Linked DNA regions of Homo sapiens: all the other regions are linked to region 1. The links come from fine-mapping of genetic effects on plasma protein levels. A gene starts in region 1. Each other region holds a variant in brackets. All regions are shown on one strand. Distances are between the middles of the regions. Region 1 holds the start of CNTN1 (contactin 1). Region 2 has its middle 58 kb from the start of CNTN1. Region 3 overlaps CNTN1 (contactin 1). Region 4 overlaps CNTN1 (contactin 1). Region 5 overlaps CNTN1 (contactin 1).

The links. PIP is the chance, under the fine-mapping model, that this variant and not a neighbour inherited with it causes the effect. The UK Biobank Pharma Proteomics Project read protein levels with antibody pairs (Olink). The fine-mapping took linkage between variants from a reference panel, not from the people measured, so its PIPs are less certain.
Region 2: its variant is fine-mapped to the plasma level of the CNTN1 protein (UK Biobank, PIP above 0.99).
Region 3: its variant is fine-mapped to the plasma level of the CNTN1 protein (UK Biobank, PIP 0.95).
Region 4: its variant is fine-mapped to the plasma level of the CNTN1 protein (UK Biobank, PIP above 0.99).
Region 5: its variant is fine-mapped to the plasma level of the CNTN1 protein (UK Biobank, PIP above 0.99).

What each region holds. Positions count from the first base shown.
Region 1 is chr12:40,689,720-40,694,830 of GRCh38, reverse strand. It overlaps CNTN1 (contactin 1), which reads right to left and starts at 2,392. Exons shown (of 24, transcript NM_001843.4): 1 at 2,239-2,392.
Region 2 is chr12:40,631,749-40,636,859 of GRCh38, reverse strand. No RefSeq gene overlaps it. Among named protein-coding and RNA genes, the nearest start is that of CNTN1, 58 kb to the left of the region's middle. The variant T/C (reference allele first, on the strand shown) is at 2,933.
Region 3 is chr12:40,734,649-40,739,759 of GRCh38, reverse strand. All of the region lies in intron 1 of CNTN1 (contactin 1), which reads right to left. Among named protein-coding and RNA genes, the nearest start is that of CNTN1, 45 kb to the right of the region's middle. The variant G/A (reference allele first, on the strand shown) is at 2,525.
Region 4 is chr12:40,774,320-40,779,430 of GRCh38, reverse strand. The region is part of intron 1 of CNTN1 (contactin 1); the gene reads right to left. Among named protein-coding and RNA genes, the nearest start is that of CNTN1, 84 kb to the right of the region's middle. The variant C/AC (reference allele first, on the strand shown) is at 2,192.
Region 5 is chr12:40,780,355-40,785,465 of GRCh38, reverse strand. The region is part of intron 1 of CNTN1 (contactin 1); the gene reads right to left. Among named protein-coding and RNA genes, the nearest start is that of CNTN1, 90 kb to the right of the region's middle. The variant G/A (reference allele first, on the strand shown) is at 2,946.

The sequences.
Region 1 (5,111 bases):
TCCTTTTGAAGACAAGAAAACAGATTCTCAGAGTTTAATTATCTTGCTCCAAATCAGATCATCAGGAAGTTGCAGAGCAAAATTAAAAGCCAGCTCGCACTGCCTATGATGGTAACTTGGTAGATTAAATAATTTATCTTCAAAATGACTTGGCAAGTTAGAATTTTGTTCTTAAAACACAGAATTAAATTTTGTAGGGATACATGTCAGACTAGAACCGAATAAACTTGGTTTATATTGTTCCTGGTATCAACATTAACCACATTTTGTTGCCAGGACCAAAAATCCTGGGAAGCTAAAAAGTATTCTATTTGAGGGGAAACTGCTATGCAGTATAATTACACGGCAGGTTGTTGGAATATTAAAGTTTTCAGAAGACTTTCAACCAATCACTTGTGTCTTCTGAATCTTAGTTTCTTCATCTGTGAAAATGGAAAGGTTGTCATCAGGAATAAGTAATTTCAGGGAATGGCAAAGATAAATGCACATACATCAATCTATAAAAGAAAGTTCACATAGTACAAATAGATGTGATATGAAAAAGCAGTACAAATTTAAATATCAGGTCCACATGTAAAATCTGTACAAAGAAATACCTCACATCTACCCCCGCAAGGGTTCTAGCAGTTCCTTAGTCCTGGAAAGTGGGTGGATCCATTCCCAGATCCCCAAATGCTGTTAGCCATAAGTTACCACTGAAATAAATTTACTACCAAATAACCAAACCATTATGCCGAGTCTAATAAAATATCCCAGATACGGCATGTATTAATTTGATTTGCGTTACACTTCGGGCTGGTAAGGTTCATATGTACACTTAGAAACCGAAAAATGCGGCGAAATGGATGAAGATTATATTGGCACTCTAAGAATGTTTGCAAAATACTGAAATATTGAAAACATGAAATATGACATATTGAAAACATGAAATATGAAATATTGATCTTTACGTGAGTTACAAAAACATTATTTCACGCAGGGTTTCAGCAGTCTGAATGCTTCTTCTCCGGCTTTTCCCCCAATGGAGAATTGGATTCCCTTTTGCCCCGCCCACTCAGTGCTTCCAGATTGCTTGAGAAGGCCAAGGCAGCCGGCTCAGCAGCAGGGAAGCCGGGCTGGGTATGCAGGAGCTATATATAGCTCCACCTTGGAGATGTGCACACACAAGCACACGTACGAATACCCATGCCCGGTTTGGCATGAAAATAAATAAATAAATAAGGAAAGGTCGCAGCTATCCGCTTTCCCTCTTTCCCATCATCCCAATTTTTCAGGAATTTTCAAAGCAGGGTGTCATCAGTCCCAGAGGGTGATGCAGCGTCGGATCTCTCTGCAATTCTTCTGCCTACTGCTCCCAGCAATCTGACTCCTGCAGGAACCGGCACTGGGCCAACACCTACTACCCAGATGCGGTCACCTAGGGAGGCAGCCTCGCAGCCGCTCGGAGCCCATCCGGGCACAATCACTTGACTCCCTGGAAATCCCTGAAGCCAAATCCACCTTTCAGAAACTAGGTGTGAAGGTGGTTCCCGTAGACAGCGCCAGGCTAGGAGGGAAGGGGCCGTGGCTCCGCGGTCTCTCCCTCCCACCTGCCGCAGATCGTGGAGAAGGGCCGGTGCCTTCTCAACGGAGACGTAATTAATCGGAACGTGCCCTTCGAGTTGCAGGGATTCTTCCCCACCCCCATCTCCTGAAGGGAGCTAGATCTTAACAGAGGGGTCAGGGGACAAACAAGTCGCTTCCTCCCCTCTCCGCAACCGCTCCCAGGTTTTCCGGGATGCGCTAGCCAGGCGCCCAGGTGGGATGGGAAAGATGAGCAGGTGCGGGCCGGCGTCGGGAGAAAAAGACCTGCAGGCCCCGGGCTGCCGACCTCTCTGCTTCCCCACCCCTCCCCTGCCGAGGCGATATGGCATCCCTGGGGCGAGTTCCCGGCGCTGGCGGCGGCAGCCTCCGAAAGGAAAGTTGACGAGACACAGACCCCGAGCTCGGAGCCCTCTTCTAGGGCACTGCCGTCCTGCCTTGCCCGGCACCCCAGGGCTCCGGCATCCCGCACCCCTGCTTCCCCGCACCCCAGCCACCTCCGCCCCAGTCCTTCCCGCGCCGCACGGCGAGAGCTGCAGGGACCACAGGAGATTTGGGGGTGACGAGGGCTGGGCGGGGCTGGGGGAAGGGAAGCAACAGCATGGAAATGCGCATTCTTTATTTTATCTGCAAAGAAGGAAAAGTCCAGCTTCCTACCTGTTCCCTGCTCCTGCTCGCCTCGGTGCGGCACAGCTGGACCATACCCTACAGGTTTCCCACTTCCGCTGCAAACACCTGGGAGCGCATCTCCCCACCGGCGCCCCTCCTCGCCTCGGCGGAGCCCACCCTGGCTACTTGACAGCAGAAGCCCGGCCTTTTAGGGCGGTTATTGGGGCAGCAGGGAAAGTGGGGCGGGGACCACAGGGAAACCCGCTTCTCTGATTGGACAACAGGGATATCACTCTCACCCCCAGGACCAGCGCAGGCTGCAGACTTGGGTAGCTGCTAAACCCAACTGCAAAGGGTCTCTGCAGTGCCTGAAACCCAAACCTGCTGCTACCGGATCAAGGACCCTTGCTGGAGAGAAACTGGTTTGATGACTTGTCATTTGGGGCCCCAAGAGGGAGGGAGGGTCCAGGCATAACTAGACACCCAGCACTTTCCTGAAGCTTCCCTGAAGGGACCATCTGCTCCGGGAGATTTGTCAGGCGAAAATACCAAGCCAGCGCCTCATAGAGAAGAATGAGCTTCGATTAGGAAATAATAAGATACTTATGTGGGAAAAAATACACACACAGAAAGGAAAATAAAACGATGTGAGGTTTTTTTTTAAAGTTTCCATTTTTGTCCAGATGTAACATGGCAGTTTTTCTTGAGAAAAGACGGAATTGCTTAGTCTGTAATGCAGAAGACCCCCTAATATTCCCTGGTAGAAACAGTGTTTTAAACGGGAAAGCACTGCATAATAACCTCTCAAAAAAAAAAAAAGGGTAAAAGAAATTAAGGCCAAACTGCATGAGAGATTTGCTTTGGGGCAGTTCAGTTTGTGGCAAAAGTCTTAAAATAATCACCATTAGACTGATTGATAATTAAGTGATCTGTTACTTTTCTATTGATAGTAGTTTATCATTTCTTTAGTACTCAGACACTGAGAGGATGTTTATGCCCCCAAACCTAAGTGATCCCAAGCCTGCCTTTTATGTGAAGGGAACAGGGTAAAATAACTTTGTGTCCAGTTGCCATCTCTGCCATTTATTCAGGTGGAATCTGGAAATTTTGGAATTCAAGAGACTCCTTAAATGAAGGAACGTGCTAGAACTACCACGTGTAAAACTGGGAGTGTAGGGTGTCTTAGTATATAGTACCATGTGAGGAATCAAGTTGCCTTCTGCCTGCAAATAGCCACATTCTTCTTCTATCTGAATTAAGTAGCCATCTTAAGTGCTGAGCATAAGACACAACTCTCATTCTCACAGAGCTTCAAAGAGCTTATGACAGGCTTGGGACACTGGACAACTGTTAGAGAAGATGACATTGCTATTAATAAATATAGACTCTACTTAGTGGTTACGGTTGTTATTACTATCATCAGGTAAGGCTCTTCATAATGTTTTCTTCATAATACTGAAGGAATCCGATTAATGCATTTGAAGGTGGGGGCCGGGCGAGGTGGCTCATGCCTGTAATCCCAGCACTTTGGCAGGCGAGGCAGGCGGATCACAAGGTCAGGAGATCGAGACCATCCTGGCTAACACGGTGAAACCTCGTCTCTACTCAAAAAAAAAAAAAAAAAAAAAAATACAAAAAATACAAAAAATTAGCCGGGCATGGTGTTGGGCGCCTGCAGTCCCAGCTACTCAGAAAGCTGAGGCAGGAGAATGGCGTGAACCCAGGAGGCGGAGTTTGCAGTGAGCGGAGATTGCGCCACCGCACTCCAGCCTGGGCGACAGAGCGAGACTCCGCCTCAAAAAATAAAATAAAATAAAATAAAATAAAATAAAATAAAATAAAATAAAATAAAATAAAATAAAATAAAATAATAAAATAAAATAAAATAATGCATTTGAAGGTGGGAAGGGACCCTGGAGAAAATTTACAGTGAACAAATAGATATTATTTGTGTGGTGACAACCATCTTAACACTGAATGGAAATGACTAAATATGCCGTGGCAAAATTTCAGAACCCCTGTGTCATTTCTTACACAATACTCCTATTAGTCATGCACCTCTGTCCCAGGTACTCACACCAGTTATTCCATTGGATTGGCCAAATCATTCATGAATTACTGAGTACTTTTTCAATGCCATACCCTGTGTTAGGTGCTACAGAACTAAAGCAGAATAATGTATTGGACACATTAAAGATGATCTCAGGAAGCAATTACAATAGTAATATTTCTAAGGAATGTGTGTTTGCAACACGAACATCTTTTGATTCCTAAGCATAAATTATTTTGAGTCAAAATGAGCTTCAACATACTCTCCTCTAGAGGTAATCAGAGGAGAAGAAAAAGTATCAAAGAAAATACCTAAATATTGAAGACAACACAAGAATTGAAATTGGTAATGAAAAGAAAACTAAAGACATCTCTGCTATCTGCGTTCTTTCATTGCTTCACTCATTCATTCCTTCAACAAATATTACTATTATAAATGTGATGGTGAATAAAATAGGCAAGCTCTCATGGAACACATTCTTTATTCTTCAAGCAGACAATGTTACTTTGTGCATTTACTGTGATCTAATTAGCAGCTTTGTGTGTACATGCAAACACAACTCTGGAACAGTATTAAGATAATTTCTCTCTGGATCAGGCATCTCACACATTTTCAAGTAAAACAGAGCATTTTCAGGTTATTGCTTATTATCTCAAAGAGAAAAACCTGTACATATGTTCCCACAATACAAATGAATATGTCAAAGGTATCTGCTGCTGCAGAACATTTTAGATTTTCCAAATCACTTTCAGATACAATTTCCCTCTGTGTTCTAAAATAAGCAGGAGAGTCATCATTAGTCGCATTTCACCATGAGGAAATTGAGTAACCAAAGAGAAATGTGGTCCTTCAAAAACAAAGGCAGTAAACT
Region 2 (5,111 bases), 58 kb after region 1:
ACAAACTTAGAAGAGAGTCACATTGTGTGACATCATGCAAACTTTATTCCTAAGGTGAGTTCTGGAGGACATCCTAGAAACCTTTGAAAAGCTCTGTTCACCCATAGCTGCCTATAGAAGTCCTATAAGGAGCTATGAACCTCTTCATAGTAATTATAATGTCAGTTCTTTCTAAATAAATTTATAAATGTATTGCTATTGCAATTAAATTCTCAGCAGGTTTCTGTAGGTGTCTATATGGAAATTGAAAAGCTAATTCTAAAATGTATACGGAAATACTAAAGAAATTTTTTTTAAATCTTGAAAAATGTAGGTGGAGGACTTACAATTCCAGATATCACAATTTACTATAAAGCTACAATAATTACAACAATATAGTGTTGTACCAGGAAGTAAATAGACCAATTAAATGGAATAGAAAATCCGGGAGTAGACACATACATATCCAACCAATCTAATATGTGACAAAAGTGCCACTGAGAGTAGGTAAATGATTTTTTTTAAGTAATTGGTGCTGTATCAGTAGATATCCATATGAAAAAACAAATTTTGATCCCCATTTTACATCTAATACAATAATTAATTCATGGACCTAATTGTGAAATATACATACAATGCTTTAGAAGGTAACATGGGTAAATACTTTTGTGAAATGAGGTATGCAAAGATTTCTAAACAGAACAAAAAGCACCAACCAAAAAAGGAACGATTAATAAATTATACTTGTTAAATTAAGAAATTCTGTTATTAAAAGGCACTATTAAGAGAGTGACAAGTGAAGCCATATGTTGGAAGAAGACATCCAGGCTGGCAGCCTGCCCTAAAGATTTGATACTTACCTTCCTAGACCTCATGGTCATGTATCAAATCTTCATTTGATCTTCTGCAAGTTTATTACCTTCACTTCTTCTTCAACACTGATTTTGCTCTGTGATTGGGTTTGGTAAGTCTAGCCATACCTATTTCTACTTCTGTCATCTGTCTTTGCATCCTAATCTTCACTTCTTACTCCTGGCTTTCTATGATTGTTTCCTATCTTCTTCAGTCAGATGATTATTAGAAGACAGTCAGACATCTTCTAATAATTTCTGTTTTATCTGTTTCTAATAGAAAGGAATCTTCAGAACTGTAAATATTCCCTCATTAATCAGCATTTTAAACATATTTATAGACTATTTTCTCTAGTAATTTGGAATGGAGAGCCACAAAATCAAGCCTAGCATTTGCCAAAAGACAAGCTAGAATATCTCTTGTACCATTTACTATCCATGTGGGTGCTGGTAGCTTTTCTATCCAAATGGAAGGAAAGCTTGATGTACTCAATGTGTGATTTCTAATCATAATCCAGTGTGATTTTGTTGAATTCAAGTCAGAGCTTAAGCCTTCTTTGCCAAGATTTCAGACCAAAATGCACTGTGCATGGTGTTATTCTGGCTTTCTATGGAAGGGAAAAAAGCATTTCCTTAGGCAACCAGATATCCTCACATCCACTTAGCCTTTGCCTCTCTTTCCTGGCATGTTGCCTGCTGAGAGTTATGGACTCTTAATGATATGTAGAGGTAAGCTAGGATCAGACAGTTTTTATTTACAAGAAACAGAATCCACCATAGACATATTTTATGTCGACATTGGTTTAAATGTAGGAAACAAAGTGCTTACAAAAATCATTAAAGGAGTGGAAAGGCAGACTTTATCCTAAGCTTCCTCCAGGAATGATTCCAAGATCAATACAATAGAACTGGCTCACCAGGGAACTTACCACAGTTAGGAAGAGAGGGAAACACAGAAGCCTTTCTGACTGTGATCCAGAAAATAAGCCAGCATCTCCACAACTCCCTCCTGACACCCATTCTGTAGTCACTCTCAATGACTAGAGAATGCATTGCTGAGTAGGGCCACCAATGCTGCTTGAATCTGCCTTTCCAAGACTATGCTCCAGAAAAGATGCTGGAAATCAATGTTCCCCAGACCAAATCCAGGCAGCAAACATGACCACACTCCTCTGTTTACGTACTGCCTGTTGCTGCTTTCACTGCACGGCAGAGTTGAGGAATTGGGACAGAGCTTGTATGTGGCCTCTTGTTCCATGAAACTGGTATATATGCTCTATAGCCCTTTACAGAAAACATATATGAACTTCCAGTCTAGAAGTCAGTGGTTGGAATGCTGTTTCAGTGAAACCAACAAGTATACAATGGTGCCTGCCAAAAATAACACCCAAAGCACAGGGAGACGTCTGCTCTCCATGCCTCAGGCAGTTCTATGTAACATACAGTACATAATTCTCATCTTCAATCTCATCTTCAAAGGAATCTAAAACATGTAGTTTTAATTTTTGCAATCTTTGCTGTATAGAAAGTCACATGAGGAGAAAGTTGGAGTGAATATGAGGGTCGTTTCATTATATCCACCAAGTTCAATTTTCTGGGTATGCAACGTTTATCCATACATTTCTCCATATACTTAAACTTCCAACAATGGCAATCTAAAATAACCATTACCATACAGATATAATGCATTTGCCATCTCTCCAAAAGGAGAGAACCAAAGTCTCATCAGTCACTCTAATGATCTTTTTGTGATACTCATCTTCTTTTAGTTCAGCTGAAATGCCACCTTCAACATTATTGTCCTTTTTCCTTTCCTCTTTCCTACACACTGAAATATGCATGTGAGGTTCAACTATCTTTGACATTTCAGGCAGGGAAAGCATTCTAGGAATGGGAGAGCAAGCAGTAGAAGAATTTGGATCTCTGATAGTGGCTCAAGCCACCATCAAGCCCTAGACTATAAGCCCAACTATTATATGAAAGAGAAATAAACCTTTACCTTAAGCTACTGGATTTTAGACTCTCTTCTACAGCAGCTTAGATTGTTCTCTTATGTATAAAGCTATAAATTAAATTAGAAATTTAACATCGATGATACATTC[T/C]ATGAGACAAGCCTAAGCAGTAAAGTGAGACTCCATCTCTACAAAAAAAAATTAAAAATTAGCTGGGTGTGGTGGTGTGTGCCTGTAATCCCAGTTCCAGCTACTCAGGAGTCTAAGGCAGGAGGATCACTTGAGCCCAGGAGTTTGAGGATGCTATGAGCTATAGTTGTACCACTGCACTCCAGCCAGGATGATAGAGCAAGACCCTGTCTTACACACACACACACACACACACACACACATACACACACACACACAAATCCTATATAAAAAAAGAAAAGGAAGGGAAGAGAAGAAAAAAGTTAACTAGTAGGTAGAGATATATACATCACATAAACAGATAGAACTATGTATAGCTATGACCTACATCACATTCTTTGCCCAACGCCTTAGCTGATTAGTTTTGTTTGTTTTGCTTGATGGTTTGTTTGTTTTGTCTGCACGTTGATCCAAATCTTTATTCTGAGATGTCTGGCTCCTTGCTGGTCTTGCCTGAATGAGCATTTGGCCAATATAATTTTCCATTATTTTTTATCCCTAGACTGGCCACTATTTGGAGACAATTTAGATGACTTGGCTCCAGATGTATTTTTTTGTCTCCATTGTGAAATAGTAGCCCGATTTTTCTTTGGTAATTCGATTAATCACTGGAACAGTTATTTTACTCCCATACTAGTTGATATTTTATTTCGTTTTGTTTTGCTTGTTTCAAGAAGAGCCTAAAATGCAACTGTTGTTATGTCCTTGATGGAAGCATTTTTCCCTTTGGAAACTTAAGGAAAATATTGCCCCAAACCTGGTCTGGAATGTATTTCACAACCTCCTTCCAAGAAAATTTGGCATACCTAATGAAATAGCCTAAGCACCATTGTATCATTGCCTCATGAACTGTAATAAGCCTGAGATCTGTTCTGGAAAGCTAGTCACCCACCCACCCTCTAACTGTCAGCTGACTGTCAGAAGCCTAATCATCTCTAATCAGAAAATCTTTTCTTAATTAACTAACATTTCTGTCTTCTATAAATGTCACTAGCAAGAGATAAATCTTTAAATTGGTCTGCTTAGGTCCCTTTTTTTGAACAATCTTGAAATAACATTTTGACAAGTCCACATAATTAAATTGTCAGAATAGGTTTAAATAATAATAATAATAATAATAATAATAATAAAACAATGACAGAAGAGTCCACAATGGCATGGATTTTGTGAAGGTGACATTGGTATGGTAGGTTAAAACATCACTTTCACTTCCACTCCTTGGTTCCTTGACTTTTGAATTATGGCTACAGAAAAAAAGTGTAAAATTTACAATATTTCTTTTGTTTTACATCACATCTCTTTTGTCTTTTTCTAAGGTTTTTGTGTCTCTGACATCAGCCTGCTTCTTACAATCATTGAAAGTTATAGTTTACTTGATAGTATATTTTTCTTTCTTAGTTTTACATAAAATAATTGCACTCTTTACAATCCAGGCCAACTTAAATTTGATGAGCTAGGAAATGACTCACTGCTTAAGATCATAGAATGCATTTTCTAAAACACCCTGTTAACCTCACAAGGTGCTATCTTCCAGAAAGTGCTGTAACTGAGTCTTCAATATGCTGTTTCATTTTCATTATTCTATAAGGAGAGTTCTGTAAGGGGAGACATAGCACAGTTGGAAAATTCCTCAGGTTTCAGCACATTGTTCCATTTATCCTGCCATAGAAAACAAGCCCCATGGTTAGAAATAACATTGTGTGGAACCCTGGTATTGTGAATGAAGCGTTCACTAAGTTCATAGATGTTGATGCTAGCAGAGAACAGACAAAAAAGGCAAATTCAAATTCAGAATGTGTGTCTGTTTCAGGGAGAAAAAATGAATCTGACAGATGTGGGTCAAAGTAGCCATCTTGCCCCCAGATGTTTTCTGGCACCTGTGGGATATGCTGGCATAGTGCAGCATTAGTCTCTGTTTTGGCAAGTGAAACATTTAACAATACTGTTAGCCAGATTAGCCTTGGTGAGGGGAAGCCTGTAAACATGTGCCACCCTGGCCACCATGGGCATTTTGTTCCCAAGCCCCTTAAGCAGGCACTAGGCTGTCTGGGGAGTGAGGCTCCTCACATCCTATACATGTGATTTCTTTTTTCATTTTTCACATTTGTGATTTTATTAAATCGATTGCCTTACAAAACAT
Region 3 (5,111 bases), 45 kb before region 1:
AGTATTTCAAGGACACAGAAAAATATAAGTTACCCCTGTAGTAAACAACCTCTGTCAAACTCTAGCATTTGACCATACTTGTTTCAATTATTTCTTAAAGAAATAAAACATTACAGATATGGCTGAAGCCTCTGTTTACCTTTCCAGATCCCCTCCCAAGTGGGATTGCCATATAAAATGCAAGACTCCCTGTTAAGTTTGAATTTCAGATAAACAATGAATAAATATTTAGTATAAGTATGTCTCATATGATATACAATTTGAATGTATTTTTATTTGCTAAATCTGACATCCTTATGCCTGAGGTCTAGAAATATCCTGAAATTGTTTTTTAATCATTCTTACACATTTCAAAACGCTGCACATTATGTGATCAAGAACATTTTAGAGGATTGTTTTGCATGCCTTCAAATCTTATATAAATGGTACAATATGTTTCATTCTGCAACTAGCTTTTTAAACTAAATGCTGAGATTTTGAGATTTATCCTTATTGACTATCCAAGTTTTTTACTCATTTGAAATGCAGTTTTTCATTACTACAAACAAGATTAAAATTAATATGCTCATAGATTTCTTCTCATTTTTCTTAGGTATTTGTGAGAGAGTCTCCTACATGGGTTCTTAAGCTCCACTGCACACTAGAATCCCCTGAGGAGCTTTATAACATACTGATGCCAGAAAAATGTCTCTGGTATTTCTGATTTAACTGGTTTGTAGTGCAGCCTGGGTACTGGTATGACTGTCATGTGCACCCAAGGTTAAGAACCACTGTTCTTCTCCAGCATATATTTTTAGAAGTGAAGTTGCTAGGTTGAATCTATGAATCTTCTGTGAACCTATGAATCTTCTATGGTACTAAATATTGCCAGATTGAGCTCCAGAGTGCTTTTACTAGTTCAAAATCCCATCGACTACAGGTACAACTCTCCACTGCTATGCTTTTTAATTTTTGCAAATTTGGTAGACACAAAACATTAAATCTCTGTAGTTTTATTTTGCATTTCTTTGACTGTTAGTGCCATGGAGCCTCATTTCATGTATTTATTGACTATTGAGATTTTCTCTTCTCTGATATGCCTGTTCACAATATTTGACCCTTTATTAACGGGTCATTTATCTCTCAGTTACTGAGTTATAAAATTTTTATATCTTGTTTGTGGTTCCTTTTCAATTGTAGGTCTTGTATATTACTTTCGCTAGTTTATGGCTTGACTTCAAACTGTATTTAATGATGTCCTTTGTCAAAATGAAGCTTTACATTTTTAATCTTTCCCTTTTGCTTTCTGTAATTTGTTTAAGAAATGCTTCACAACACAAAAGTCACCCACATATTTTCATAAATTGTTTTTCTAAAGATTAAATTTTTTTTACCCTTCAAAATTCTAATGGACTTGATTTTATTAGTATGAAGTAAAAATTTCTGCCCCATCTCCCAAAATAAAACAGCAATTTTCCCAGTGCCATTTGTGGAATAGTTTTCTTTTCCCGCACTAGTTGGTGTATCCATATAATGACATCAATATAAGTTTCCGAGCTCTATGTTTTGTTCAACATTGTACACTCTGAACAAATATCATATTATTATGAAATTATGCTAAATTTGGTATGTGATACAGCAGTTCCCCTTCACTTGTTCTTCAAAATCACTTTGGGATTTATAGATTATTTATTAAGAATACACAAGCCTATTACTATCTTATTAAAAGTTTCTAAAAATACAGAATATATGCTGAATTATGCAAATAATTTCAGTCTCTATGTATTTAAATATTTGATTTTTCTCTTATGATCTCTTAATATGATGCCTCAATACAGAACCATATTAGAGTTCCTAGAGTAAGCCACACTTAGTGGTGGTATATTACTCTTTATTTGTGATGTTTCATTCTAGTTGCTAGTCTTTTATTTTGATCTTTGTTTCAAGTTCTATTGTCTATATATCTTTTTAATTTGTCAGATTTTGGTAGTAATGTAATGCTAGATTAGAAAATATAATTGTGTGATGGTTAATACTGAGTGTCAACTTGATTGGATTGAAAGATACAAAGTATTAATCCTGGGTGTGTCTGTGAGGTTGCTGCCAAAGTAGATTAACATTTGAGTCAGTGGACTGGGGAAGGCAAACCCACCCTTAATCTGGTGGGTGCAATCTACTCAGCTGCCGGCGAATATAAAGCAGGCAGAAAAAAGTGAAAGGAGAGACTGGCCTAGCCTCCCAGCCTACGTCTTTCTCCCATGCTGAATGCTTCCTGTCCTTGAACATCGGACTCCAGGTTCTTCAGTTTTGGGACTCAGACTGGCTCTCCTTGCTCCTCAGCTTGCAGACAGCCTACTGTGGGACCTTGCTATCATGTAAATTAATACTTAATAAACTCATATATATATATATATATATATACACACACACATATATACACACACACACACACACTCCCATGTATATGTGTATATACACACACACACACACACACATATATATCCTATTAGTTCTGTCCCTCTAGAGAACCCTGACTAATACAAGT[G/A]TAAATATTTATTTTCCTATCTTTTCAAATAGCTTGAAGTGCTACAAGCATCTGTTTCTTGTAGTGCTTCAAACTATTTGAAGATAAAAAATTTATATATAAAATCCACCAATCAATCTGGATTTATACTGATTTGGAAGGGGGAATATCTCCATGATAAAGTTTTTGAATTTTTTTCTTTAGCAATTGGTCTGTGTTCTCAAGGATCAGTTTCACTCATTTCTATTTTCCTAGAAAAATACTGATTTCGTGTAGGATTTAAAATTTATTTTTATAATGTTGAAAAAACTAACCTTATGCAATTCTTTTAATGTCTTCTGCCTTTGAGATATTTTCCCATTTCCAATTCTTAATGTATTTGTGCTTTCACCATCAGCGTCCTGATTAGGTTAGCCATTGTTTTTCCTTTGTTTGTTTGTTTAAGACCCAGTTATTGGGTTGATTTATTAGCTCTGTTTTGTCTGTTCTCTAAGACATTACTTTCTGCTTTAAATTATTAAATATTTTCATTTGTTTAACTTATTTTATTATGTGTGAGTTAGTTACCGAAATTATTTATTTTCATTCTTTATCAATGCAAGTGGTTGTGGCTAGGAACTTGTCTCTAGTTACTGTGACTAAATTGTATACCATAGGTCTTCATATATAATGCTTTATTATATTTACTTTCCAAGTAATCTGCTCTTTTGCTCTGAACTTCATCTTTAACCCAAAAGCCACTTGTGAGAGCCACTTATTTCACTGTGATCAGTGAAGCTAATTCTTTTCCTTTGGGAAATATGTTAGCGATTTCTTTCTAATCTATTATTTTTTTTCTCATGTGAATATTGCAAGAGCTTCTTAAACCATATCTTATACTTATATTATTAAGATCTATGCATTACTTTTGGTCTATTTGTTTGCCGTGGTCTGAGAGATAAATTAGAATATCCTATATAAATTAGAATATTGTATTACTATATTTCTGTCCATTTTACTTGTGCCTATGTATTAATGACTGCCAGATCTTCATTATAATTTATATACCTTTTACACTTCCAAGTGCTCATGTTTGATTGATTGATTCTGTATGTGTGTCTGTGTGTGTCCGAATAGTGGTCTATTTAAGAGAAACTGGCCCTGGCTCACAGAGTGCTGCCTTTTCCTTCAGCTTACCCTGGGGATTGGATGTTTGTATGAGGCCAGCATGTCTTGCCCCATCTTTCTGAGACAGCTGCAGGGTAATCACAATAGATGTTTTCTCCTCTGCTTATTCCACATGTCTCTTCCAGCAAAGATGGCAAGCAATGTGATTTCCTCAATGAGACCTACCTCCCCCACCTCTCTTTAGTAACAAATGGTGGACAGGAGAGTTTCTACAGCCAGCTCAAACATGTTGTTTCTATTGACTCAAACCGAGGACTGTAGATTTTCCTCTTTAGCATCCCCCAATGTTCTGGAAAATGTTTGCATTTGGCTGGCTGTGTCTGAGATATGTAACTGCATATGCCCTCTGTCAGTATCTTCCTGCACGCTGATTTGATATTTATTGCATTTGACAGCTCTTCATCTTAAATTGTGATTCAAGATTATAGATATCCCTATTTTTGTCAAAAACATGGTTTACATTTTTCTTGTTATTCTTGTTTACATGATTTCAGAGGAGAGAAAGAGGAAGTATCTTTGGTCTCCTTTCTCACAGTTAGGATTCCCTTATATCTTTGAAAATTACTGATGCTTTGAGCTTCACTCTAAACAAATGAAATCAGAATTTTTAAGACTCAGCCCAAGAGATGTTTAATTTGATAAACTCTATAGGTGATTTTTCCGTGGGAACGACGCCCATTGCCTTAGCCAAACAAATATAGGCTTTTAATAATATTTAAAATATTCTAGTTACGTTTCTTTCTTTGTGTGTACCAAATGTGTATTTTGAGGAATCTTCTTACATTGTTTGAAGTTTCTTGTCACTTCTAAATAAGAGTACTAAATTGACTTCCATAAAAGCTAGTCATTTTAATCTAAGAAAGTATACATAGCTTTAATTATTGAATATATGTCTACTGAGAGTTTATGGGGAGAGAAAGCCTGTTTTGGTTCTGTGGAACTCTTTGGTATTGAAATATTCTGGTCTTTAAGGAATGAACAAAATATCCTTTGAAACATTCAACAATGATGATTTAAATAGTCAACCCACAATAGTTATCCAACCCTTCTTTGCAGTATAATCTTCTTTTACACTATCATAAAATCGTATGCCTAGTAAAATGATTGTTTTACTGTTCCTCTGTTGCACATCATGCTTTTCCTGATGAATGACTTTGCTCTAACTTTACTGAAATAAATCTTCTCAACTTAGTTGATAAATTATACTTCTTGTGAGAAAACACCTCCAAAATCAATTTCTCTTCCTTCAAGGTTTCCTGACCCAGATGTTGGTTCTCCATTTGTAAATACAATGGGCAATTTCATCTGTATTTTTCTTAGCATGCTTATTATGTTATATTAATTTGCATACTTGACTTTTCCCTTAGTGATAAATTGTAATGATAATAGAATATGTGATAGTTATTTGTCATCTACGAAATTCCGGGTAACAGATTAAGTC
Region 4 (5,111 bases), 85 kb before region 1:
GATACCAGACAACTAGCTTTTAAATTATAAGTGTCCTTGGTAGAATTATTTTAAAAGGTAAGTGGAAAAAGGTGAGTAAGGTTAAGTTCTTAACTTGTTTTTAAGAATGAGAAGTAGCACACAAAACAAATTGCTAAATAAATTCACACAAACAGACGGGGAAATTTGAGAAATAGACTTTTTGAAGAATATTCTGAGTAAATTTGACATATTTTACTTAATGAACTCAATCTTTACCATACTATTAATTAAGAAACTGTTATTTACTAAGATTTTAACATAATTATCAAAAATCCTTAAAAAAATAAAGATTATTTATTTTGCTTTCAGAAATGTGGAAACTAAAGTCTATCCCAAAATTATACAGCTAGTATTTGAGTAAGACTACATCTACCTGACTGTTCATATTTTTCCATAACAATATGCTGCCTAATTTTTAGTCATTTTTCCATATGAAAAGGAAAGGTTTCAACTACTTGATTTAATGAATGAAGTAGGCACTCATGGAATTTCCTGACTATCAACCAAAAATAGTTTCAAACAGGCAACTAACTCAGTCACTGTATCATCAAATAACATGGCTCTTCTAAAACTACTAAATGGACTTTTCCCCACTATTATATTTTAATGACAAAACAATCAGTCGTTGAGAGCCAATTTCTTATAGGAAATATTTTCTATGTAGTTCCAATAAAAATCTGGCAAAAATGAACAAGTTGCTTTGTCTTAGGTTTTTTTTGGTTAGTTTTGTTTTGTTTTTTAAGATAAAACCTAAGGGATTGTTCGTGTTTAAGCCAGCATGCTATAATTAGGTTTATGTTCATTCATAAAAGATACTTTGAAAGGCAAAATGAGACTCAATATGCTCCAGATTAATATAATATTTTTTGTCTATTTGTAGAATTGAGCAAAATGGAAAGTCAAGTGAATTGGTATTTTAAAATGGATAAAAAATCAGGGGTTCATAAATATTTTGCATAAAGGCCAGATAAATACTTTGTTCTTTCCAGACCATATGGTCTCTGTGACAACTACCCAATTCTGCCCTTGTATCAGGAAAGCAGCCTAGACTGTATATAAATGAATGCATGTGGCTATGTTCCAATAAAACTTTATTTACAAAAACAGTACAGGGGTTGGATATAGTCCATGGCCTGTGCTTTGCTGACCTCTGAAATAGGAGAACAATAAAATATGATGATAACATGGAAATGGTGAAGCCAAGATACTTTTTTATAGTTTGGTAATAAGCCTTCACATAGTTTTGTCCAACATTCAGGTACAATTAGATTCCAGGCTACATCCTGAGTTATTAAAAAAATAGGATGACTGTTCCTCTGGTTCTTTTGAAATGACCTCAAATAAATATTCCTGAAGACATGTTTAATGATTTGTAGTGAAATGTTAAAACCAACAGTGTTTTCATTGCCCCTTTACATTAGCGTAAGGACTTCCATAATCTGGTATCTTGTCATGATGTGCTTTTGAGGCAGTAGACTGGAAACATCTACAGGTAAATTTGAAGTTGCTTATTACTTATACATATTTCCATATTTACCCTTCCCAAAGACTGACTGAAAGAGACTGTTATTAATCATGCCATAGGTGATGAATCTGAAGCTCAAAGTTGTTGAGTATATTACCAAGGTTAAGCTACTAAACAGTTGGACCGGGGTTTGAAAAGCACAGCATTACGCAGAGCTACCATGTGTGCTCATGCAGTTTATGCACCCCTTAGAACACGACATATCAGAGCATAGACAATGCAGATTTGTATATTCATTCCAGACTTTTTCCCATAGATGGCAGTAAAATATATTTTTCTTAAAAAATTTACATTGTGACTTTTTTAAAAAGAAGGATGTATATTACAGAAGGAATCTTTTTCTAATTCACTGCAATATGCCATATGTGATAGTACTCATCCTGTGCTGACCCTGAAGACTTGTTCTTTTACATTAGGCTAAACTCTGTGCCAGGAGGGTCGCCTAGGTGTTACCAAAGAGTAAGGTATTCAGGAAATGCTGTGTTCCCAGACAGCATATGTAACATTAGCCTTTCCCTTCCTTTAAGTCCTAGGAAGAGCTTATTATTATATACACACAGAAAGGTTTCATATATAAAAGAAATTTCAAGATAGAATTGATAAGACTTGGTAACTGATTGGATATAGAGAATTAAAAAAAAAAAA[C/AC]ATAGTAATTAGATACCCTGACTATCCTAGCATGGTTGACTAGATGTATGGATATGCTATTACTTGATATTGGAGATAGAGTCTGGAGAAAGACAGATGATTTTCGCTTTAAGGTTTAGTGAGAAATGTTATATTGATCAAAAAGGAAGTTGAATATATGTACCCAAAGTAAAGAGAGAGGTCAAGGCTAGAGTTAGGGTTTGGGATGCCATTTTTATAGAGGTGTGACAGTTAATGCCAAGAGAATCAGGGGACATAAGTGGGAAGAATTTAAGACTGGGAGAGGTGGGATATACAAGATAAACAAAAAACAAAATAACAGTATAAAAGTGTGGCCAGAGAAAATATATAACATGTTAAAAATAGGTCACTGAAGCCAAAAACAAAAACTGCTTTAATGAAAAGAGTTTCTTAAGTGTGTCGCCTACTTGATAGAGTTCTAGAAAAATGAGAATTGTACAGAAATCATTATAGCTGGCAATTCAAGAGTAACTGGTGAATTCTGCAAAGTCACTCTCAACCCAATAGTAAAGGGAGGTGTTAAAGATGTTGAAATAATACAGAGACTATTCCTTTCTTAAGTCTAAAACTTAGAAGTCAGAAAAGAAGGAAGTAGGGATAGAGAAAGATTTTTGTTTGTTTCCTGTTTGTTTTTAAGAATGTAAGCTCAATGGGCATTTTTAAAGTTGGGAATGTATCTGGAAAAAAGGAGCAATTCAAAATATAAAAATGAGGCATGAGTAATTGACCCCACAGTATTTCACAGAAGACCTAAGAATTACGAGTCACAAATCAATAATGGCTGGAAGTGAAATCCTCTCCTGGTTCTATCTTAAAACAAAACAAAAGAAAAAAAAGTAACTTTATTGATATATAATTTGCACACCCCAAAACTGATCTATTTTAAGTGTGCAATTCAGTGAATTTTGGTTTGTTATAAAGGCTTTACTTTTATCTTATGTGTCCAACTCTTGTTGAGAACTCTTGATCTTATCTGTCTTACAGTGTTGTAGAATTCTATACTCAGTAATGAGTCCCAACTGTACACTGGCTAGTATAACACAGAAACTATAATTTGTGGCCCATTTTAAATAAAAAAGAATAGAAATTTAAAACAAAGGAATAATAGAGAAATATCAGTGCTTTGGGCTGCAATAACATTACCATACAACATGTGGAATGAGGCAAATGCCCTAAATAGTTGCTATTGTAACTTTTACAATGGATAATTAATAAGCTACACTGTATAATTCAAAAAACTTTTGTTTTATACTATTAAAAATCTATCTATATCTGTAATTGACTCATGAAGTAACTATGCAGTGACAACATACTACTTACACTACGTTTTTGACTCACATTGATCTCTGGGGCTTTTTCTTGTTTGCTTACTTGTTTTTGGCAATGTTACCCCGCAATGTTTCTAGCATTTCAAGTCACCATTGTCTTAGTTATTTGTGTCTAACTTAGGTCTTAATTTATAAGAAAAAACTTGCTGGTGCCTACACATAACAAAATTTATTATGTAACTCTGTCTTTCTACTGTCTTTCTTTAAACTCATGGATTTATGTATTTGTACACTTTAGTTTTTGAATTGCTGATTTCCAGACTTAAAGTATGTTCATATTTTACTTGTGATTAGGAGAAACGATTTCTCAAATGAAGTAAAAAGTAAACAGAAAAAAAGATAAACCGTGGCCTAGTCCTAATATACATATGTTATTCCCTACTAGGATATCAGGCTTAGATCTGTAATCAAAGAGACATTTATTTAGTACCCAAAATATAATGGAAAAAAATAATTATAGAACTAAAGATAAACTACTTACCCAAGTTTCTAGGCCTCTAGGTAATTATATCTCATACCTAAAAATTTTTCCAAATTAATATCTACCAAAGGAAATATACATTACATTATATATAATTCATTTATATTAAAGAAACATGCATTATATTTAAAAACATTTAATTGTGGTCTTCATTTAAATATGTTAGTTTCCTTCCAAATACAGCATCTAAAGTTATTTTTAAAATCTCTCCTCCATATAGTAGATCAAGATAAATAACCACTTTCCTATTAAACATTAGAAAGAACAATAAAGAGGGGATGGTTAATGGGTACAAAAATATAGTAAGATAGAAGGAATAAGAGCGGGTGTTCAGTAGCAAAAAAGAGTGACCAAAATTAACAATAATTTATTGTACATTTTAAATTAAGCCAGTTGAATTGGAATGCTCCAAATACAAAGAAATGATAAATACTTGAGATGATGGATAACTCTATTATCCTTATTTAATCATTACATATTGTATACTTATATCAAAGTATCACATGTACCTTATAAATATGTACAACTATTATTTAACCATACTAATAAAAAATTTAAAAAGACTTAGTTGCTCTAATTTCTCTTTTAAATATTTTAGTAAACTTTGATTTTAAAAAACTAGAGAAAGGTAATAAAAAAAAAAGGCCAAAAGTAGAAGACTAAAAGCATAATTTAAATGTTCTCTTAGTGCAAGAAGATTCAATAATAGCTAAATTATATATTGAGATGAGAGTTAAGTGTGTGATTTCTGTAGTTATTCATGAAATTACACTGGAGAGGAAGCAGTAGAATACGTTATAAAGCAGACTTTATCACATTGAGTTTATTTATTTGTTAAAATATTCATGAAAGTTGACAATCACCATTAGTTTTTCTCTCCTTGGAGGAGACTCTCATCAGATCACATATATTTTCTATAATCATTCTTTAAATATGTGCTGTCTTGTGAGATTGCAAATTTCCCTCTCATGAATAATTGAACTACTGATAGATCGATGTCTTCCCTTAAACATTCAGAGATGAATCCAGTCTTTGAAATTCTCTTTAGACATCACAATCGTGACTGCCTTCCTTAGAGAGCCTTTCCAAC
Region 5 (5,111 bases), 91 kb before region 1:
ACAGCCTTGTTGCTCACACAAAGCCTGTTTGGTGGTCTCTTCACACAGACAGGTGAGACAGTACCTCCCCCTTCTCTCTCACCCCCTTCCTTGCCACGTGACGTGCCTGCTCCCACTTCGTCTTCCACTATGAGTGAAAGCTCCCTGAGGCCTCACCAGAAACTGAGGAGATGCTGGCACCATGCTTCCTGTACAGCCTACAGAACCATGGGCCAATTAAACCTCTTTTCTTTATAAATTACCCCATCTGTAGGTGTTTCTTCATAGTGATGCAAAAATGGAACAATACAGACAGCAAAAGAAAATTAATATAATACTAAATAGTTTTTTTCTGTGTCTGATACTTCCAATATCTGAAATCTTTGTAAGTCTAGATCTCCTGTCATGCTTTTGTTAGCTTTAAGTCTATTTTATTTTTTACATTTTATAATTTTCAGATGATTTACTCATTTCCTTAGAACTGTATCTAGGAAATGCCTTGAATTTAGGTTCACACTACGAAGGATTCCTTTTGCATCCACCCCATGACTATGAATCTGTAACCACACAAAAGTATCAGTTGAGGTTTGTTGGACCACGCAGGTGAATTCTGCCCCCAAACCTGAGTGAAAGCTACCTTATATTTCTGAATTCTAAGGGCAGATTTGTGCCAATCCAATCAGTGGGAAGGTGTGGGTAAGTACATTTCTTTGATGTATATTCCCAGTGATAGGTTTATTTCCCATATAGAACACGACCCTGTTGAACCTGTTCTTACAGTATTGCCCTTTGGGATCCTGCTCTCTGGGGAGCTTTTCTATCAGTCTCCAACTTGGGCAAACCAGGCTTTATCTTACATTCCAAGCTTGGCACTTGCTTGCCTCTCAGGGTCCCTGCTTTCACTTCATCTTTATCCTCTTGGAATACTTTCTTTTCTAGCCCGCTCAGCAAAACATTTAAAAACAAGTTTCTTACAGTCACATTTTAGAGTTTTTCATTTATAACCTGCCAGAAAGAGAACCCTCGATATAATCTTTAAAACTATCTCAATTTATCTTGAAAAACTGAAGTGACTCATTGCATTGCCTGTATATAAGTTCCATTACCTTAAATAAAACAATTACCAAAGCTTTTCCACTCAATTTCTTAATGCATTTAACTAAAGTACTACTATTGGGGGAACTGCTGTGTGAGAAAAGTAAGTAGCAGACCACAGGTGCAAGTTTCACATTTTAAATCCCCACTTTCTAAAAATATATTGATAGCGCCATATGAAGACTCATCTCCAGACAAATGCAGGTCTAAATTCAGAAATTATATTTTCTTTTAGAAGTTTGATAAAGATTCATATTTTCCCTAGTCCTGAACCACCCAGTCAAAATGAGTAATAGCACCCTTTGGGCTTCTGTAACAGGGGATTACACTATGCTGTAATAATTTGTTTACATAGCTGACATTTTTAACTACACTGTGGGAATCTTGAAGAGAATATCTATTTTTCTTTACTGTTAGCTGAAAATTTAGCATAAAATTGACAAATTTAATCTACAAGTGAAGATGGTCAGTATAAAGAAATTAATTGGTAAGAAATTTGTAACTATGTTACACATATAATTTCCATCTATATTTTATTTACTAATGTTAAGAAAAAGTGTCTTTCATTTTTATAATATTTACCTCAGCATTAATGAATGACATCTCTCAAAATGAATTTCTAGCATAAGAAGAGTTTCCCTTCTTTATTCATCTATTTGGTTTTTTATTACCTGATTTACGTGTTTCACACAACGAGTAAAGGAGTGTTGTGATTCTAAAATACAAGTTGTTTTAAATCATGTTTTACCTGAAACATTGTTACTGGAATGGTGATAATACCATATGAAAGAAAATGCTTAAGGTAAGAGAAGTCACATTGTCAATAACATATTGAAATTGATGTTTACTAGAGTTGTGTTCTATGTAATTTGCATTATCAAGGGAGTCTGATGATCAGCCTTTAATCTACTTTATTCACTTTGTAGAAGTCAACATTTTAAGGTCAAGCAAACTAACAAAAAACAAATTCAAAACTCACAAAATCTTTTGAGATTTTTGAGTCAGTTATAGGAGGCAAGACTGGCTTTCAGCTTGCATCTTCTCACATATATTTTTTGATCTCACACAGCTATATTTTATTCAAAACTGTTCATCTGATAATTATGTTTAAAATGCCAGCTTTATGTTCTTCTATTGTTATACTAATTCTTTCAGAGAAATCACCCACTCTAAAATCTTTAATAAATATATTTAATGGAGCTAGGACTCAATCTTTGACTCTATTCTTCACTCGACTTTCTATGTCCTATAGAATAAATGAAGCTGAGCTCCCACTGGTACTTTAAAAGCAAAATAGAGACCAAACTCATATTGTTCTCTAACAAAACAGTTTATACTCTTACTTACATTCATTTGAAAATTTCCCTTATGCTATAGAAGAAACCCCAAAACCAATTTCTCTCCTCTTTTCTTTATTCCTTTCATCTAATCTATCATAAATACTGTCATATTTATTTCCTTTATGTCTCTGGCAACAGCATGCACACCCTTCCTCTATTGCTTCTGTTAGGATTAAGTCATCATTTTATACCTTGGAAAAACTAGACAATTCGTCATTTTAAATTTTTTTTATTTGGCTACCCCATATAGATTGTGGATTCTTTCACTCAACTATGATATTATAAAATGCAGCCCATTATTTTTCAGGTAGAGAATACTGGAATCAGGGGATCAGTTATGAAGCTGGAAAAATCACTTTCTCTTATCAACAAAATAAGTCCATACACCTCCATCTACTTGGGTAACCCAATTTTCCTAAATTTTCCTCAAATATGCATCATTCCAATTGTCCCTCCAGCAAATTTCAGTGTTAGACAGACCTCATCTAGTAACTACACTAGAAATGATCCAAAGTGGATATCTACAAATCA[G/A]TAATTATGAAATTATAGTTAGTTAACTAGAAGATTAAAATGTTCTTACTTTTAGCAAAAATTTTCAATTTGTTCTATAGAAGATCAGTTGCATTTTAATCCCTAAGAAGTTTTAAGTTGTTGTTTTGACTATTATATAAGGTTTTGGCATATTCATAAATTACATTTATAAAATCAGTAAATACATTTAAGCTAAAAGGGTTTGACCTTTTTTTTATTTTTTCAAAGCCTGTTAATGGTTCATATCCAAAACACCATCTTACTCAGCATTATCAACTTCTATTAGAAATTAATACTTCAAATAAAACTATAATACTTTAATATCACTGCTGAATTTGTCCCACTTTATGATGTACAACACTATTATTGGAACTTTTAAAAAATATGTGTGCATATTGATAGATAGGTAATAGGGGATGGTTTCACTCAAATTACTATTATGTAACAAAATTAAACTTCAAAAATTAACAATTTCTCATGTGACAAGACAAAATTATATTCAGATGGTATTCTAAAAATATTTATTCTCTCAAGATGACTAATAAAAAATTAATAGTAGGAAGAGAACAGAAAGAGCCCATTAAATTTCCAAATCTCAGTTACCTTGATAATTAACATTGTATTCTAAAGGAAAAGCATTATATTCTCCTGAGAAAATATGAGATCAGATGCAGAAACCAAAATATAAACATGCGTTAAATAAATCAATAAGGATCCATTCTGACTATAATAGAGAACAATTGAGAAGACACAGTGTACACACAGAAACAATTAAATTTAGGGCCTTTTATTCTGCTATATTCACTTGATCATGTTGCTTTTGGGTTTTTATGTTCCAGTTCTTCACCTTGGTGACTCATTTCAACCCAGATATTGGTTTAAAAAAATTGATTAATGATGAAATTTAATGGGAGGCAGAAATTTAACAATGACTAACCCTCCCATTAGCCCATACAAGATAATAAAATAACAAAATTTGTACCACATTTAAGTTTGTTCCTAATACATGCAGAAGAAATATTTGTCTCCCATGGAACCCTTAGGAAAAGAGAGGAAAGTTCACCCAGGAATCTCTGACACATACTCAATAGAGGACTGGGACCAGGATCAATGGCCCAGCCTGAACCAAGATTTAAATTTTCTATTGGAATGGTCAAGACAGATGTCCAAAGAGACAGAGACCCAAGTGTGAGAGTGCAGTGCTATTGTGTCTTCTGGTGGCTTATATAAAATCTCTCTTCTTCTGACTTCACTCTTTATCTCATCTGAGGCCTTTTGTCCCACAGGTACGGTTGTGCATTCACCTGTTCCTAGCACTTTACCTATCTGTGCAAATATGGCTTTGAAGGTCTAATATAGTCATAGCTTATGTCCCAAGATGCACTATTCTCTTTGCTGGTCACTTACATTTCGAGGGTCTTATATTTGTTTCACATCTGATTTATTTCATCTATTTGGTTCCCATTATTAGCTGCTTATAGATGAGATACCTCTTGCTAACAGAGGTAACCTTAGTAGTGAGTATGTGATTGCTGTCTAGTGTAAAAGAAAGCCTGATGCATTAATGAGTCATATCACCCTTAGAAATTAAAAAAAAAAAAGATTTCCATCATTTTTGCACAAAATTCTTTAAAAATGAAAATTCTACCCTTTGGTATGAGCATCATTCCAGGAGCCACATCATACCTTCCTACTCAACAAACCCTGAACCTCTGAAAAAAAAAAAGAGGCTTGAATAGAATGCCTTAACCTCTCCTTAAAGGCCTCCTCTTTTGATTCATGGATTTTTGAGATGAACCTTGAAATGAGGATTGGTGTTTTTTTTTTTTTTTTTCTTAGATGGAATCTCACTGTGTTGCCCAGGCTGGCCTCAAACTCCTGTCCTCAAGTGATCCCTCCATGTCAGCCTCCCGAGAATAGAGAATTTGACATTTTATTCTCACACAATGGCACTCTCTATGAAAATATCAGACATGCAAATATAAGAAAGACTTTCAAATTTTATTTTATTTTGATAGGTAGCATGGGAATCAATTGAAATACTGTAGCTGCCATATTGTAGCTGAAACCATATTGTAGCTGCCCACAGTGTTGTTAACTAAATAAATTATTGATCATTGTCAGAATTTTCTTCTCGAATATTTTGAATTCCTAGGGGTCTTAAAC